Regions from separate parts of the Homo sapiens genome. Here region 1 is linked to region 2. Evidence: fine-mapped expression QTL. Tissue or cell type: whole blood. Region 2 holds a variant in brackets; the other region holds the start of a gene. All regions are shown on one strand. Distances are from middle to middle. Region 1 holds the start of ZNF264 (zinc finger protein 264). Region 2 overlaps ZNF264 (zinc finger protein 264).

Evidence for each region.
Region 1: ZNF264 starts here. The variant in region 2 is fine-mapped to the expression of ZNF264 in whole blood (TOPMed, PIP above 0.99).

What each region holds. Positions count from the first base shown.
Region 1 is chr19:57,188,217-57,196,552 of GRCh38, reverse strand. ZNF264 (zinc finger protein 264) reads right to left here and starts at 5,053. Exons shown (of 4, transcript NM_003417.5): 1 at 4,607-5,053; 2 at 2,552-2,678. The coding sequence starts at 4,639. RefSeq lists a silencer at 4,538-4,807 and enhancers at 4,978-5,037, 5,048-5,137, 5,158-5,217.
Region 2 is chr19:57,220,984-57,229,319 of GRCh38, reverse strand. ZNF264 (zinc finger protein 264) reads right to left here. Exons shown (of 4, transcript NM_003417.5): 4 at 6,474-8,336. Among named protein-coding and RNA genes, the nearest start is that of AURKC, 5.9 kb to the left of the region's middle. The variant A/T (reference allele first, on the strand shown) is at 3,400.

The DNA of each region.
Region 1 (8,336 bases), 33 kb after region 2:
CATGGACTTCCACTTACCAAGGCTGACCTGGCTACAGCCACTGCTGAGTGCCCAATCTGCCAGCAGCAGAGACCAACACTGAGCCCTCAATATGGAACCATCCCTCGGGGTGATCAGCCAGCTACCTGGCGGCAGGTTGATTATATTGGACCTCTTCCATCATGGAAAGGGCAGAGGTCTGTCCTCACTAGAATAGACACTTACTCTGGATATGGGTTTGCTTATCCTGCACGCAGTGCTTCTGCCAAGACTACCATTCACGGACTCATGGAATGCTTTATCCATCGTAATGGTATTCCACACAGCATTGCCTCTGACCAAGGCACTCACTTTATGGCTAAAGAAGTGTAGCAGTGGGCTCATGCTCACAGAATTCACTGATCTTACCATGTTCCCCATAGTCCTGAAGCAACTGGATTGACAGAATGGTGGAATGACCTTTTGTAGTCATAATTACTCCAACTAGTGACAATACTTTGCAGGGCTGGGGCAAAGTTCTCCAGTAGGCCATGTATGCTCTGAATTAGCATCCAATATATGGTACTGTTTCTCCCATAGCCAGGATTCATGGGTCCAGGAATCAAGGGGTGGAAGTGCAAATGGCACCACTCAACATCATCCCTAGTGATCAACTAGCAAAATTTTGCTTCCTATTCCCGCGACATTACATTCCGTTGGCCTAGAAGTCTTAGTTTCAGAGGGAGGAATGCTGCCACCAGGAGACACAACGATTCCATTAAACTGGAAGTTAAGATTGCCACCTGGACACTTTGGGCTCCTCCTACCTTTAAGTCAATAGCCTAAGAAGGGAGTTACAGTGTTGGCTGGGATGAATGACCCAGACTATCAAGATGAAATCAGTCTACTACTCCACAATGGAGGTAAGGAAGAGTATGCATGGAATACAGAAGATCCATTAGGGCATCTCTTAGTATTACCATGCCCTGTGATTAAGGTCAATGGGAAGCTACAACAGCCCAATCCAGGCAGGACTACAAATGGCCCAGACCCTTCAGGAATGAAGGTTTGGGTCACTCCACCAGGAAAAAAAACCATGACCTGCTGAGGTGCTTGCTGAAGGCAAAGTGAATACAGAATGTGCAGGAGAAGAAGGTAGTCATTAATACCAACTACGACCAAGTGACCAGTTGCAGAAATGAGGACTGTAATTGTTGTATTTCCTCCTTCTTTTATTAAAAACATGTTTGTGATGTATACACTTGTACTAAGAAAACATCTGCATTTTATTTCCTTTATCATGTGACGTAAGATTTACTGACTTCATATCAGCATTTAAGTATTGCTACCTTTATGTAATAGCACTTGGGTTGGGGATTAGTGTGTTTCGGTTGCATGAACGATACTTGTATTATGTTAAGCATAATTATGACCTTATTGTCTTTATTTGAAGATTATGTATGATCTCAGGAGATGTGTATGGGTTCAAGTTGACAAGGGATGGAGTTGTGATGGTTAACAGCTAGGTCCAGCTAGGTGCCTGGCCCATGTTGAAGGCTTCCCATCCTGTGTTAACACAGTCACCAGAAGTCCCTAGCTCCAAACACTTGAAACGGACACTTGACAGCTGTTACCTCAAAAACATCATTTCATTTCTCTGAGCCTTTATTTCTGGATCAATACAATAATACTTCCCACCAGTAACAGTCGTTAAATTTAAAGAGAAAGTATTCAATGCTCAGTGTGCTCTGGGATTTTTATTAATGTGTCAACTTGATTGGATTGAAGGATGCAACGTATTGATCCTGGGTGTGTCTGTAAAGGTGCTGCCAAAAGAGATCAACATTTGAGTCAGTGGGCTGGGAAAGGCAGACCCCCCCCTTAATCTGGGTGGGCACCATCTAATCAGCTGCCAGCGAGGCCAGCATATAAAGTAGGCAGAAATACATGAAAAGACTAGACTGGCCTAGACTACCAGCCTACATCTTTCTCCCATGCTGGATGCTTCCTGCCCTCGAACATTGGACACCAAGTTCTTCAGCTTTGGGACTTGGACTGGCTTCCTTGCTCCTCAGCTTGCAGACAGCCTACTGTGGGACCTTGTAATCATGAGTTATTACTACTTAATAAACTGTCCTTTTTATATATATCTATTCTATTAGTTCTGTCCCTTTAGAGAACCCTAATCCAGGTGGCCACTCTTGTCTTGAACTCACTAAGGCAGAAAAAGCCATAGAGAATAGACGTGACATGAGCAGACCCAGACAGAGAAGCCAGGACACCATCGTGGTGGTTCTCAGTTCCTACACCAGCCCCTCATGAGGCACAGCTGAAAATTACCTTTGAGTTTGCAAAACACCCCATTTCCTTTTACCACCTTCTCCTTTGGCTGGGAGCCAAAGAGTACCCTGTCTTTAGCCCAGAGATATAGGAGACCAGATAGGAAGAGGTTACTGTGGAAAATGACTAAAGCTGTGGGAAAGAGGCAAGGTAGATTCTAGAGGCCTTCTTGTGCAGCCAGGCCTGGAGTCAGAAGATGGAATGAAGGAAGTGGCAGGTCACCTGCATGGTGGAGGGGGAAGGAAGGCCTTACCCAGAGACACCAGGAGCCCACAGTTTTCCAGCATCACCTCCTGGTACAGGGTCCGCTGAGCTAGGTCCAGCTGCCCCCACTCCTCCTTGGTGAAAGTCACAGCCACATCATCAAAGGTCACAGACACCTGGAAAGTCAAACAGAATTAGTAGTATTGGCCTTTCAGCTGCTGAATGAGATCACAGACTGTGCTCCACTGGAAAAGGTGTACAGTGATGGCGGCCTGAATCACAGAGCACCTCCTGAGGGCCTAGCTCTGTGCTGGGCTCAAGAGGGAAGATAGATGCTTTTAACATAATACCAGAGTAAAGGAGAGAAGCCTCCTATTTAACGGCCGTTAGAGAATGACACAGGACAACGGAAACAACTTGTGGACTGTGAAATACAGAAGCTAAGGGCTCTAAAACGACAGGGAAATGGGGAAATGGTAATAATAGCAATAATGGTTACAACGGCAGTACCTGAGTCTCACTGGTCCAGCTAGGTGCCTGCCCCATGTTGAAGGCTTCACATCCTGTGTAAACACAGTGACTAGAAGTTCCTAGCTCCAAACACTTGAAACTGACACTTGACAGCTCTTACCTCAAAGACAGCATTTCATTTCTCTGAGCCTTGATTTCTGGATCAATACAATAACACTTCCCACCAGTAACAGTTGTTAAATTTAAAGTATTCAATGCTCAGTGTGCTCTGGGATTTTTATTAATCCTTTCACAGTCCCTGCAGTCAACACCATCATCACCTTCACAGTCAATGACTTCATGCTAAGGAAGCGCTATCAATTCACCCAGTCACACATCTCACCACCATAGATAGGATCTAAACATGGGGTTACTATGATTCACGGTCTAACAGTGTAACTCCAACACTCCCCCAACATCAAAGCAAATCTAATGCGATGAAGTTATAAGCATTTCCACTCATTTCTAACATTAAGTCTATTTCAATTAGCCCTGAAAAACGTATCTGTGGGCCGGGCATGGTGGCTCATGCATGTAATCCCAGCACTTTGGGAGGTCGAGGTGGGCGGATCGCTTGAGGCCAGGAGTTGAAGACCAGCCTGGCAAATATGGTGAAACCCAGTCTCTACTAAAATACAAAAATCAGTCAGGTGTGGTAGTGCATGCCTGTAATCCCAACTACTCGGCAGGCTGGGGCAGGAGAATTGCTTGAACCTGGGAGGCAGAGACTGCAGTGAGCTGAGAGTGCACCACTGTACTCCAGCCTGGGCGACAGAGTGAGACCCTGTCTCAAAACAAAAAAAAGTATGTGAACACGGGCACAAAAAGCTCAGCATTCCTCACTGACCCCACAGAGCGGCACTGGAAGGGCTGCATCTACTTGGGGAACGACAGGCTCCAGACCAGCTTCCCATGCCCTCTGGGATCTCCCTGGGTCTCCCAGATCCCCCAAGGAAATTCCACAATGAACCAACCATCGGCCTCTTTCCTTACTGGGTTCCGACAGAACTTGTCTCTGACGCCAGGATACTTTGGGGCCACGGAACACGAGCGGCCAAGGATAATGCAGGCTGTAGCGATGAGAGTAAGGGCATCTGACTGGCCACAATGTCTGCAGTAGTTGCGGATGGCTAGAACATCCAGGAAAAGACCACACACTGTTGCCCTCCACGTCTCAGCGGCCGCAGGAAAACCATGGCAACCTTACACACCCTCCTGAGCCTCCTTAAACATACAACATACCTTGTCTCTGCTCGCGCATTTGTCGGCTTGCTACTGCCCTGCCCTCCCCTTCCCCCCTCAGGCCCCCAATTCATGCTGGAATGAGACCTGGTCCACCAGAGAATGCTTGCAGGCCAAGGATGATGGGAGTCCCCAGAGGAAGCATCATTCACTCAACAACCTACGGAGCTCCTTCCAGTAGGCCCAACACTCCTTACGGCCAGGTATAAATTAAGTGGCAAACCAGCTCCACACACCAAAGCGAACGACGACTGCGAAGACAAATCCAGGGGATACCTGGGCTCCCACCCACTTCGGAAACCGCCTCAGCGCTGGCAAGGAAGCGGCAACCGCGAAGCCACCGTCCACTCACCTGGGCCCGGTCCGTCAGCACCGCTGCCGCCATCACGTCACCCCCTGGGCCGCAGAGCTGGGACAGAGGAGCCCCGGGCGGCCTGACGGACCCCACCTGTGCCCGACCCTGGCCGGTTGCCCGGGGCTTCCAGGCGCGCTCGGGGCCGCCGCCTCCTCGGTGGCAACGGCGTTCCAGACGCAGGGCCGCCGCCTCCTCGGTGGCAACCGCGTTCCAGACCCAGGGCGCCGCCCCTGGAGACCGCGGGGCTGAAGGGCGGGGGAGGAGAGACCGCAGCTTGACGGCGACCCAGGAACAAACCCACGGAAGGGGTCAGGCTCGTACAAAGGTGCGGCGGGGATTCCTATCCTACTCCCCTGCTCGGTCCTGACTAGGGACCTGCAAAGCGGCCCCGACCGGGGCCCTCAGTGGCTACAGACCTCTCCAGACAGAAGTGCAGAAGAAAATGGCGTCCGCAGCGAGCAACCCGGAAGTCCCGCCCCCACCGGCGTGAGCCGTCGGAAACGTCCCCGTCCTAGGCCGTCGTTGGCCCAGCTCCCGCCGTACGCATAATGCACAGCCTTCTAAGTAGTGTAGTTTTCCTCATGTGTTCAACAACGGGAGGAACGCTTCACGGCGCAAGTTTTCCTCCCAGGGAAAGGCACTCCAGGACCCGAGGAGACGCTCCAGACCCACCTCTTTACGGTGGGCACAACTCGAGGGGAAGGATGGAGGGAGGGAACCGAGGGGCAAGGGTTACATTGCATTCTTCTCTCGGGAAAATCGGAGCTCGGGAGACAGGGACTTTCCTTCAGGTCAGGGCACAGGCAAAGGCGCAGAACTGGGTCCTCAGCTCGCCTGGCGACTGACCCCCTTTCACATCCCTCCTCCCCGGATCATCATCTTGGAAGACACAAAAAAGCCGAATGATCATCTGGAAGCCCTGCCCCGACACGTTGTGTGCGCAAACTGCCCTCTTTTGAGCCTTCTTTGGACCAGCACAGCCTCTACGTGATGCAGGGAGTCATGTATTTGGCCCAGACCACACAAAAAGTGGATTTGCCCACTTCTGAGGTGGGGAGGCTGCAAGTGGAGGAGGTTCGGAGGCTCAGGATGGTTAGTTTGAAATGTCTACAGAACCACAAAGTATCTCTGTCACAGGCAATTCGACTTACGACTGAATGTTGGAAGAAGGTTTGAGCATGAATATATGAATTTAGGAGTTACCTTACACTGTTATTTCAAGTCATGATATTGAGTGAGACCATCAAGGCAATGCATGTAGATGGAGAAGAAAATACACAGAGCATGAGCCGGGGACCAAGTCTACATCATTAAATGGTTGATGACAATATTACCAGAAAGGCCAGGTCCTTGCATCTAGATCCTGCTGCTTGCTGCACAGAAGGCCAGTCAGCAAGACAATGAGTATTGTCAGGGATGAAGGCTTTATTCGGTGCTGCAGCTGAGGAAAATGGGAGATCAATCTCAAATCTCTTTCCTCAACTGACTAAAACTAGGGGTTTATACATCAGGGAAGAAGTGTAACTATGTTTGAGAAAACAGGAATTAGGAAGGGGTAAGGAAGAGGAATGGGTCAACAGGCAGCAGATGGTCAGTTAGGCAATCATCATGGGTAAGGGGTATAGCATCTCGTTTTTCCAGATGTGGTAATCCAGTAAGTTTCAGTTTCTTTATACTATCTGGGAGGCCTGATGCTTGGTTTCCTGAGAAAGGAAATCAGATAAGACAAATAAAAGTGTCTCGAGTTTTAGGAAGGGGAGGCTCAATGTCTATAATGTGTTGATTCAAAAGAAACCATAAATATCAGTTCTATGGGACACTGGAGCTGGTTTCAGTTCCCTGTTTCTATTTATCAATTCCTCAATCATGGGGAATCTGGACGTGATCTTTCTGGCTGCTTTATGCTGAGGAGGGGTATTGTGGGTGGCTGCATACCATAGATGACCACGTGGCCACTCAGATTAACTCAAAGGTTAATCTAACGCTATAGTTTTCTTTCTTTCTTTCTTTTTTTTTTTTGAGACAGAGTTTTGTTCTTTCACCTAGGCTGGAGTGCAGTGGCACGATCTCCGCTCACTGCAACCTCTGCCTCCTAGGTTCAAGCGATCCTCCTGCCTCAGCTTCCCGAGTAGCTGGGATTACAGGTGCCCACCACCATGCCTGGCTAATTTTTGTATTTTTAGTAGAGACGGGGTTTCACCATGTTGGCCAGGCTGGTCTCAAACTCCTGACCTCATGATCCGCCCACCTCAGCCTCCCAAAGTTGAGCCACTGCACCTGGCAGCACTATAGTTTTCTTTGGAAACAGTTTTTCTCTCTCTAGTCCCTGACTTCCATCAAAAGCAAATCACAGCAGGAACAACTTACCTGCAAAACAAGCTTCAGTCCCACCATACTTATCCAAACTACAGCAAGAATCACTGTTTATACAATTCCTCCTAAATTGGCTTTGCTGGAACCCCTCATAAGGAATCTCTCAGACTCAACACCCAAAGACCTCTTAAGCCCAGCCAAAGATCTGTCTGCACCTGTACATACCTGCATGAATTGGGTGAAACCCGTTTTTCTTGAGGCCCCAGAACATCTTGAGGTTCCTAGGCCTATCAGAAAATGACACTGTATTTACTACAGGCCAGGAACCCCACAAAGGAACTGTGTGCACAAGATATGAGGCCAGTCCTTCCAAGGGCTCCCATCAGCTCCATAAAGTCAGTCTTTTTTTTTTTTTTTTTTTTTTTTTTTGAGACACAGTCTTGCTCTGCCGCCCAGGCTGGAGTGCAGTGGCGTGATGTCAGCTCACTGCAAGCTCTGCCTTCTGGGTTCGCGCCATTCTCCTGCCTCAGCCTCCTGAGTAGCTGGGACTACAGGCGCCTGCCACCACACCCGGCTAATTTTTTATATTTTTAGTAGAGATGGGGTTTCACCATGTTAGCCAGGATGGTCTCGATCTCCTGACCTCGTGATCCACCCGCCTTGGCCTCCCAAAGTGCTGGGATTACAGTCATGATCCACCACGCCTGGCCCATAAAGTCAGTCTTAATTCCTCAAAGCAGTCTCGCATAGTTAAAAATATGCCATTCCTGTCAAAGCCTTGGGAAAAGACCCAGTGCCTACAATTGTGTTATAAAATAATATGGATTTTAAAAAATAGAGATAGGGTCTTGCTTGTTTACCCAGACTGGAGTGTAGTGGCACGATCATAGCTCACTACAGCCTCAAACTCCTGGGCTCAAGCGATCCTCCTGCCTCAGCCTCCCAAGTAGCTAGAAAACAGATTCTTATTGAACATATGCTACACCTAGCTAGAAAACAGATTCTTATTGAACATATGCAAACAACCACATTGCCGTGAATTAAGAATATTCACAAATAGTTTCTGAATTCTGGAGAAATCAGGCAGAGAGAGAAATAGCCCTCAAATTTTGTTTACAAATGTATATTCAATTGTTAAAGGCTATAAATAGCTGGAAAGAAAAAAGTTTCATAGAGACAGAAAGTAGATTTACAAAAAAAGTTCTCCTGACTCAAAAACAAAACAAAAAGAATCAGCAATGTTTCAAACACACACAAAAAATAATAAAATAAATTCAGTACTTGAAATAAATCTCTGTGTTTGTGTGTGTGTGTTCCATTTCTCCCTAATTCCATTTCTCAACTGCATGAATCCTTAACTCATGAAAGATACTTTTTACCCTCTTGGCTCCACAGTTAATGGAGAAAAAAAAAT
Region 2 (8,336 bases):
ATGTACATAGCAAAATAATTATGCATTCCTGTACTTGAGGAATTTTTTTTTTTTTTTGAGATGCAGTTTCACTCTGTCGCCCAGGCTGGAGTGCAGTGGTGCGATCTCGGCTCACTGCAACCTCTGCCTCCCAGGTTCAACCAATTCTCCTGCCTCAGACTCCCAAGTAGCTGGGACTACAGGTGCACACCACCACGCCCGGCTAATTTTGGTATTTTTAGTAGAGACAGGGTTTCACCATTTTGGCCAGGCTGGTGTCGAACTCCTGACCACAGATGATCTACCCACCTCAGTCTCCCAAATTGCTGGGATTACAGGCGTGAGCCACTGTCCCTGGCCCTCGGGGACCTTTTAATTCCAACAATCAGTAACTCAAAAAGAACAACCACAACCACAAAAGTAAACAATATAGAAGGTTAGAGGGAGGTAGAGTAGTTGGGAAATGTCTAAAAGACAGTTATATCTGAGCATGGACTTGGAGGAATGGAGCATCTGAGGTAACAGGGTCTCATAGAGAGAGCACCTAAGACAAGGGAATGAAAGCAGGAGGATCCTGTCGTGTTTGGGGAAGTGCAACAAGGTTAGTATGGCTGCAGCTGAAGATAAACTGAATCACAGAGATAGATGGACGTGAATTCTGTAGTGTCCTGGAGGCCACAGTAAGGAGGTCATATTTTTATTTTTAGTTTTGAGACAAAGTCTCACTCTTCCACCCAGGCTGGAGTGCAGTGACACCATCATGGCCCACTACAGCCTCGAACTCCCAGGCTTAAGCAATTCTTCCACCTAAGCCTGCCAAGTAGCTGGGACCACAGGTGCATGCCACCACATCCAGCCAATTTTTAAAAATTTATTCTTTTTAAAGATGGGGTCTCACTATATTTCCCAGGCTGGTCTTGAACTCCTGGGCTCAAGCAGTCCTGCCTCAGCCTCCCAAAGTGCTGGGATTACAGGCGCGAGCCACTGCGCCTGGCCCAAGGATGTTGTAATAGGCTCCCTGTGTATTCTAGAATATACCTGGGATTGTATTTAGTCAGGCAGGGTGTGACAATCAGATACAGAAGTGATTATTATGGAGGAAGTTTATAGTAAGAGATCCCTAGAAACAGGAGGCAGAGCACACCATGCGGGTGGAAGCACCAGAGCAGGTTAGAAAGCAGCAGCAGAGGAGAAAGCAAGGCCCAGAGCCTGCGCTGTGTTTTCCACCAGAAAGGCAAGGCAAGGCAGGGCAGGGGCAGCATAAACAGAATAGGATTTGCTACTGTGAATAATGTTGGCAGGTTTTAGGACACAGGCACTGTCCGCAGCTATCTGATATCTGACCCTAGAATGAATTAGGGCCAACTTCAGGAAAACAACCTCTTGGGGTATCTTGCCTGGTAAGATTTTTATGTCGAAAACCATAAGTAGGTCCTGCTGCACGTTTGACCAGATAATTTATGCTAACAATATGATTCATGGTGGATGCTGGCTTTTGCATGCATGAGGCCCTGGGCCATGCTATATGTTTGTTTTCTGCAAGGGTTGTAGACTGGATATTTATGGTTATTCATGTGGGTTCTGCATTCCTACCTCAATGACCCTTAACGAAAACTCTAGACGTCAAGGCTTGGGGGAGCTTCCCTGGCTGGCAATACTGTGAATGTGTTGCACACAACTTTGCTGGGAGAATTCAGTGTGCCCTTGTGCAACTGCACTGGGAGGGAACACCTGCTAAGTTTGTGCCTGTGCTGGACACAGTGGCTTCCACCCGTAATCCCAGCACTTTGGGAGGCCAAGGCGGGTGGATCACTTGAAGTCAGGAGTTCCAGACTGGCCTGGCCAACATGGTGTAACCCCATCTCTGCTAAAAACACAAAAATCAGCCAGTGTGGTGGCACATGCCTGTAATCCCAGCTACTTGGGAGGCTGAGGCAGAGGATCACCTGAACCTGGGAGGCAGAGGTTGCAGTGAGCCGAGATTGTGCCATTGCACTCCAGCCTGGGTGACACAGCGAGACTCCATCTCAAAAAAAAAAAAAAAAAAAAAGAAAAAGAAAAAAGAAAAAAAATTGTGCCTGGTTTCTCACAGATTTCCTCCTATGTGCCTTTTACCTTTGGTGATCTTGGTCTCTATCCTTTTGTGGTAATAAACTGTAACCATGAGTACAACAGCTTTTCTGAGTTGTGTGTGACTTTCTTTTCTGAATTTTGACTTTCAGGCAAATCATCGAGCCTGAGGTGGTACTGGGGAGAGAATGTCACATAACCTAAAATGTCAAAAATGATTAAGGCTCATTCACCTAACAAATATCTGAATACATACTATTGACTACAAACTATGCACATGGAACATTAGGAGAAAATCTAGATCAAGGTCTGTGCTTTTTCGAAGCTGGAAATTGAGTTCAGGATACGGTCATTATTCAATAACCAAACAAATCAATAGATAATCATGAAAGAATGGGTATGAGCTAGCTGGGTGCTCTAGTGGGCTTCTGTGAAGGTGTGCTCTCTGGGACAAAATGAAGGATACACATTTGCTAACTGGGCAAAGCAGGTGGTGGAAGCTCCATCTCGAGTGGGAAAAGGAAAGGGAAGCATGGAGTGAAAGGAGAGCAGTAAGACTTGTATGAGATGAGGGTTGGGGAAATACGTTTTAGGGTATGTTCACTAAAGTAGGTAGCTGAACCCAAGAGTGCAGATGAGGCCTGGGGAGAGACCAGTAAGAGAAAAAAGAGGCCTGGGACAAAGCCTTAGAAATTTCAACACCGGTCAGGCACGGTGGCTCATGCCTGTAAGCCCAGCCCTTTAGGAGGCCAAGGCAGGCGGATCACCTGAGGTCAGGAGTTAAAGACCAGCCTGGCCAACATGGTGAAACCCCGTCTCTACAAAAATACAAAAATTAGCCGGGCATAATGGCAGATGCCTGTAATGCCAGCTACTCAGGGGGCAGAGGCGGGAGAATCACTTGAACCTGGGAGGCGGAGGATGCAGTGAGCCGAGATCATGCCATTGCACTTCAGCCCGGAGACAGAGCAAGACTCTGTCTCAAAGAGAAAAAAAAAAGAAAAAAAATTCAACACCAAATGGCTGGATACACGTGGATGCACCAACATGAAAGGGGAAAAGGAGTGAGAGGGTGCAGGGGAGAAAACCAGAAGCATAACCTTACAGAATCCAAGAGTACATCTGGAGAAAGGACTGGACAACAACAGTTTCAAGTCCTGTCCATAGCCCAGAAAAGACAAGGACTTAGGATTCATAAACAGGGAGCCACTGCTGACCTTCACCAGAGTGGTAAAAAGCGTGGTGCTGTAGCCGGGGAGTTTACAAGGAGAGGGGAGTTGCGGGACGTGGAGAGAAATAACACAAGGAAGAGGTAATGGGAGCGTGACATGAGCCCCAAGAGGCTCCTCC[A/T]TTAGAGGAAGAGAGTGAGGAAAAGACAAAGAACTCAAAGCTGGAGAAGCCCATACAGACATAGGGACATATGGAAGATCAGACTGGTGATGTCTGATACTCAAGAAGTGTGAGGATAATTCAGAAAGGGTTTGAAAATGACAAAAGAACATGCAGATGAAGACCAGGCACGGTGGCTCATGCCTGTAACCCCAGCACTTTGGGGGCCAGGGGAGGAGGACTGCTTGAGCCCAGGAGTTTGAAACCAGCCTGGGCAACACAGGGAGACCCCCATCTCTACAAAAAATTTAAAAATTAGCTGGGCATAGTGATGTGCACCTGTAGTCTCAGATACTTGGGAGGCTGAGCCTGCAGTGAGCCATGATCAGAAGACCCTATTTTTTTTTTGTTTTTTGTTTTTTGAGATGGAGTTTCACTCTTGTTGCCCAGGCTGGAGTGCAATGGCGCAATCTTGGTTCACCGCAGCCTCTACCTCCCGGGTTCAAGCATTTCTCCTGCCTCAGCCTCCCGAGTAGCTGGGATTACAGGCATGCACCACCACACTCAGCTAATTTTTTGTATTTTTAGTAGAGACGGGGTTTCTCCATGTTGGCAAGGCTGGTCTCAAACTCCTAATCTCAAGTGATCCACCTGCCTCGACCTCCCAAAGTGCTGGGATTACAGGTGTGAGCCACCGCGCCCAGCCTAAGATCCTATGTCAAACACACACACACACACACACACACACACAGCAAAAGAACATGCAGATGGAAAATAGGCTTGTAGGTGGCTGAAATGACATGTATGCCAAAAGTCAAGAAACTGAGATGAAAAAAGATTACTGTCACTGCTGAAGCCTAATTTCAAAGATCAAGAGACACACTTTGAACATATGTGAGTTCTTATACCTGAGAGCCAGGACATGGAACTAGGAAGAACAAGAGTACAGAGATGTTGAAAGACCACACAGCTACAAATGGCTAAAGGCTTAAGAAAGGAGGGAGGATGCCCATGAAAGGGAGGATAATCAAGAAAACACCATGTGGTCGGGCCGGGAGATGGCATTCTTCCTTCAAACTTGCAAACATTAAGAAGTGGCCCGGGGAGAATGATATCGGAAGGTGTTGTGTATTTGGGGCCCTCAATTAGTTGTGCTTGAGCTTTCTTGAGTGTCGGGCTATGAGAAGGGCATCAGGAGCTACCTTCCTAAAAACCCCAACCCCTCAGATGGTTGAGATTTTGCTAACACAATGGTCCCTCAAACGCCTGGGTCCTACCAATGCATCTGGAGAGCCCCTCTTTGGCATTGACCCCCTCCTCCTTCCATGGCTGTCCACTGAGTTCCAACCTAAGTATCACATTTGGCTTGGTGCACTGACACAGTTCTTTGGAAATGACATGGAAATGGCTGATTTGCTTTGCTAAATTCTTGAAATTCATGAGTGCTTTCAGGTAGGTTTTTTAAAATGTAGATTTTATTATTTAGCGTTGACGATGCCAACAGATCAGAAGACTGCCACTGATGAGTGTGTAACTCATAGTTCCCATGAAGAGGGGGTATATGAAGCCACACAGGGCTAAACAGGGAAGACTCACGGTTGGTTAGGAGACAGGAGGAAGGGGAAAGTGTGGGTAAAGCCTGTGTTATCATTTCTTCATTTTATTTTTAAAGAGCCAGGGTCTTGCTCTGTTGTCCAGGCTGAGGTGCAGTGGCTCAGTCACAGCTTACTGCAGCCTCAAACTCCCAGGCTCAAGTAACACTCCTATCTTAGCCTCCAAGTAGCTGCAACTAGAGGTGTGCACTATTGTGCCCCGTGAATTTTTTTTTTTTTTTTTTTTTTGTAGAGATGGGGTCTGGCTATGTTGCTCAAGCTGGTCTCAAACTCCTGGCCTCAAGTGAGCCTCCTGCCTTGGGCGCCCAGTGTTGGATTACAGGTGTGAGCTACCACACCCGGGCTGTATTGCCATTTTCGAGTGAAGAAATGGGTAAGGCAGAATAAACAAGTTATGAATTGGCTTAGCAATTCATAACTTAGCAAAAGCGGAGGAGACTTTTGCTACCTCTAAGAGGAGCAGTGTCTCCAGGATCAGCAAGGTCTCATTTGTCAAAATATCAGAATAAAAACACATGCTGAGCCAGGCAAAGTAGCTCATGCCTGTAATCCCAGCACTTTGGGAGGCTGAGGCAGGAGGACCACTTGATCTCAGGAGTTCGACACCAGACTGGGTTTCGAACACAGATATCTCATCTCTAGATTTAAAAAAAAAAAAAAAGAATCAGCTGGGCATGGTGGCAAGCACCTGTAATCCCAGCTACTCAGGAAGTTGAGGCGGGAGGATCACCTGAGCCCGAGAGATTGAGGCTGCAGTGAGCTATGAATGTGCCACTGCACTCCAGCCTGGGTGACAAAATTTCATTAAAGTCACCTGGCCAGTCAACACAAGGCCCATGGCTCGTAACCCTTACTCAAGAGGGTATTTCTCCTCCGCTATCTTGCCTGTCACATGCAAACCAGCCATTCCACAGCCCTACCCCTCAACTGTCTTTGGCAAGTTCTCACATGTGGAGCTACTATCCCCCTTCTTACTCAGTTACTTTTAGCTGGGAACTAGTACCCCAGTACTAGTTACTAGCTAAAAGCAGTCTATATACTCTGGAGCTCCCTGAAATTATTCAGACTAGCCAATTCATAACTTGTTTATTCTGCCTTGCCCATTTCTTCGCTCGAAAGTGGCAATACAGCCTGGGTGTGGTGGCTCACACCTGTAATCCAACACTGGGCGCCCAAGGCAGTGTTTCTTCTCCTTGGAGCAGTTCAGTTGAGACCACACAATTTTAAGATGTGTAACATGCCTGTGGCAAAGATTAAAAATCTTTGACCCTCAAAACCCAAGCACACTACTGAACATTGCAGAGGCACTCCAGCTTCCCACAATCGAGACAGGAAAGGCCATGCTGCGGTATGATAAAAAGGGTGCTGTGCAATTCCCACAAGCCAGATTCCCGTGGGTCTCCAACATCCCGTCTCTGTAGGGGACCTCTCGGCTGGAGTCAGCTGTTCAACTCCTCCAAAGTAAAACTCAGGCAAACATGATTCCAATAACATACTCTTTAATCACAAGTTATCTGCATTTAATAATGCAGAAATTATAAACCCATATTATTTAAATCTCTCCCCCACTGAAGCCATGAACTAGTTTCAAAAGCAGCAACAAAAGGATGACAAATTGTTTACATATATACTATAGAAATACACACTGAACTGGCAATAACATCTTTACAAAGGTGAACAAAGGGAGTACCTGCAAGTCGCACCACTTATAGCCATATATATATATTCATACACGTGTATATGTGTGTGTGTGTGTGTAGCTTGAAGTGGTCCATATGTACACACACATATACATATATATATATAGAGAGAGAGAGAGAGAGAACGCGAGCAGACTAGGTCCTTTCTTGAAAGACTCTCTCTGTACCTTTTCATCACTAAATTAAATCTCTAGGCTAGGGTGTTCATAAGTTCCACTGTAACTTAGGATTTGCTTTTTCCTCTTAACAAAACTGAGGCATTTTTTTTTTTTTTTTTTTTTTGAGACACAGTCTCACTCTGTCACCCAGGCTGGAGTGCAGTGGCATGATCTCGGCTCACTGCAACCTCTGCCTCCCAGGTTCAAGCGATTTTCCTGCCTCAGCCTCCCAAGTAGCTAGGACTAAATGCATGTACCACTACGCCCGGCTAATTTTTCATTTTTGTAGAGATGGGATTTCACCATGTTGGCTAGGCTGGTCTCAAACTCCTGACCTCAAGTGATCCACCCGCCTCAGCCTCCCAAAAGTGCTGGTATCACAGGCGTGAGCCACCTGAATTTATTACAATCATTACATAAGCCTTCACCACAAAGTCATGACCATTATTTTTTTGCTGAAAAAAAATTATTTGCTTAATGTTACGTAAATTTGACTTATATAGCATTTTAGTACCACTTAAGTCACTGTATAAAACAGCAGGTTGGAGACTGCTATCCTTTTGAGTTTGCAAGGTTCACCCTTGCTGGAGTGTGGGACCTTAGATTTTGGGAGGCTTACTACTGCTCCACCCACCCAAAACAGGAGTAGCTCACTGCCCTGTTTTTCGGTGCCTTTTTTTCCCCCCAGCTGAAAGGGGGATAACGTTTTCAGCTGAAAAGCTGAACCCCTGCTAACCTTCTGGAAGTCCAGAATTGTGGGATGTGCTAGAAAACATGCCCAATAAAAACCCTGGCACTGAGTCTCTAATAAGCTTCCCAGTGGACATATAGCATGTGTTGTCATAAGTACCAGATGGAACTTAAATAAGGCACATCCTGTGACTTCACTGAAACAAGACTCAGAAGATTGTGCCTGGTTTTCTCTGAATTTTGGCTTTTTCCCTTTACTATTTGCTTTGTATTTTTTTGCTGCAGTAAATCATAGCTGTTGAGTATGACAGAATGCTGAGACCTGAGTCTTCTCAGCAAATCGTCAAACCTGGGGGTGTTCTTGAGGATCCCAAGACAGTCATTCATAACAATTTCTAAAATCATGTACATCTGTCCAAAAAAGCCCAGGTAGGCCAGGTGCGGTGGCTCACGCCTGTAATCCCAGCACTTTGGGAGGCCGAGGCGGGTGGATCATGAAGTCAGGAGGTGGAGGCCATCCTGGCCAACATGGTGAAATCCCACTACTACTAAAAATACAAAAATTAGCTGGGTGTGGTCGCAGGCACCTGTAGTCCCAGCTACTCAGGAGGCTGAGGCAGGAGAATCGCTTGAACCCGGGAGGCAGAGGCTGCTGTGAGCCAAGATCACGCCACTGCACACCAGCATGGGTGACAGAGTGAGACTCCATCTCAAAACAAACAAACAAAAAAAGCCCAGGTAGATTATCTTTGAGGTCAAGGTATGTCATACATGGTACCACCTATACGCACAGCTTC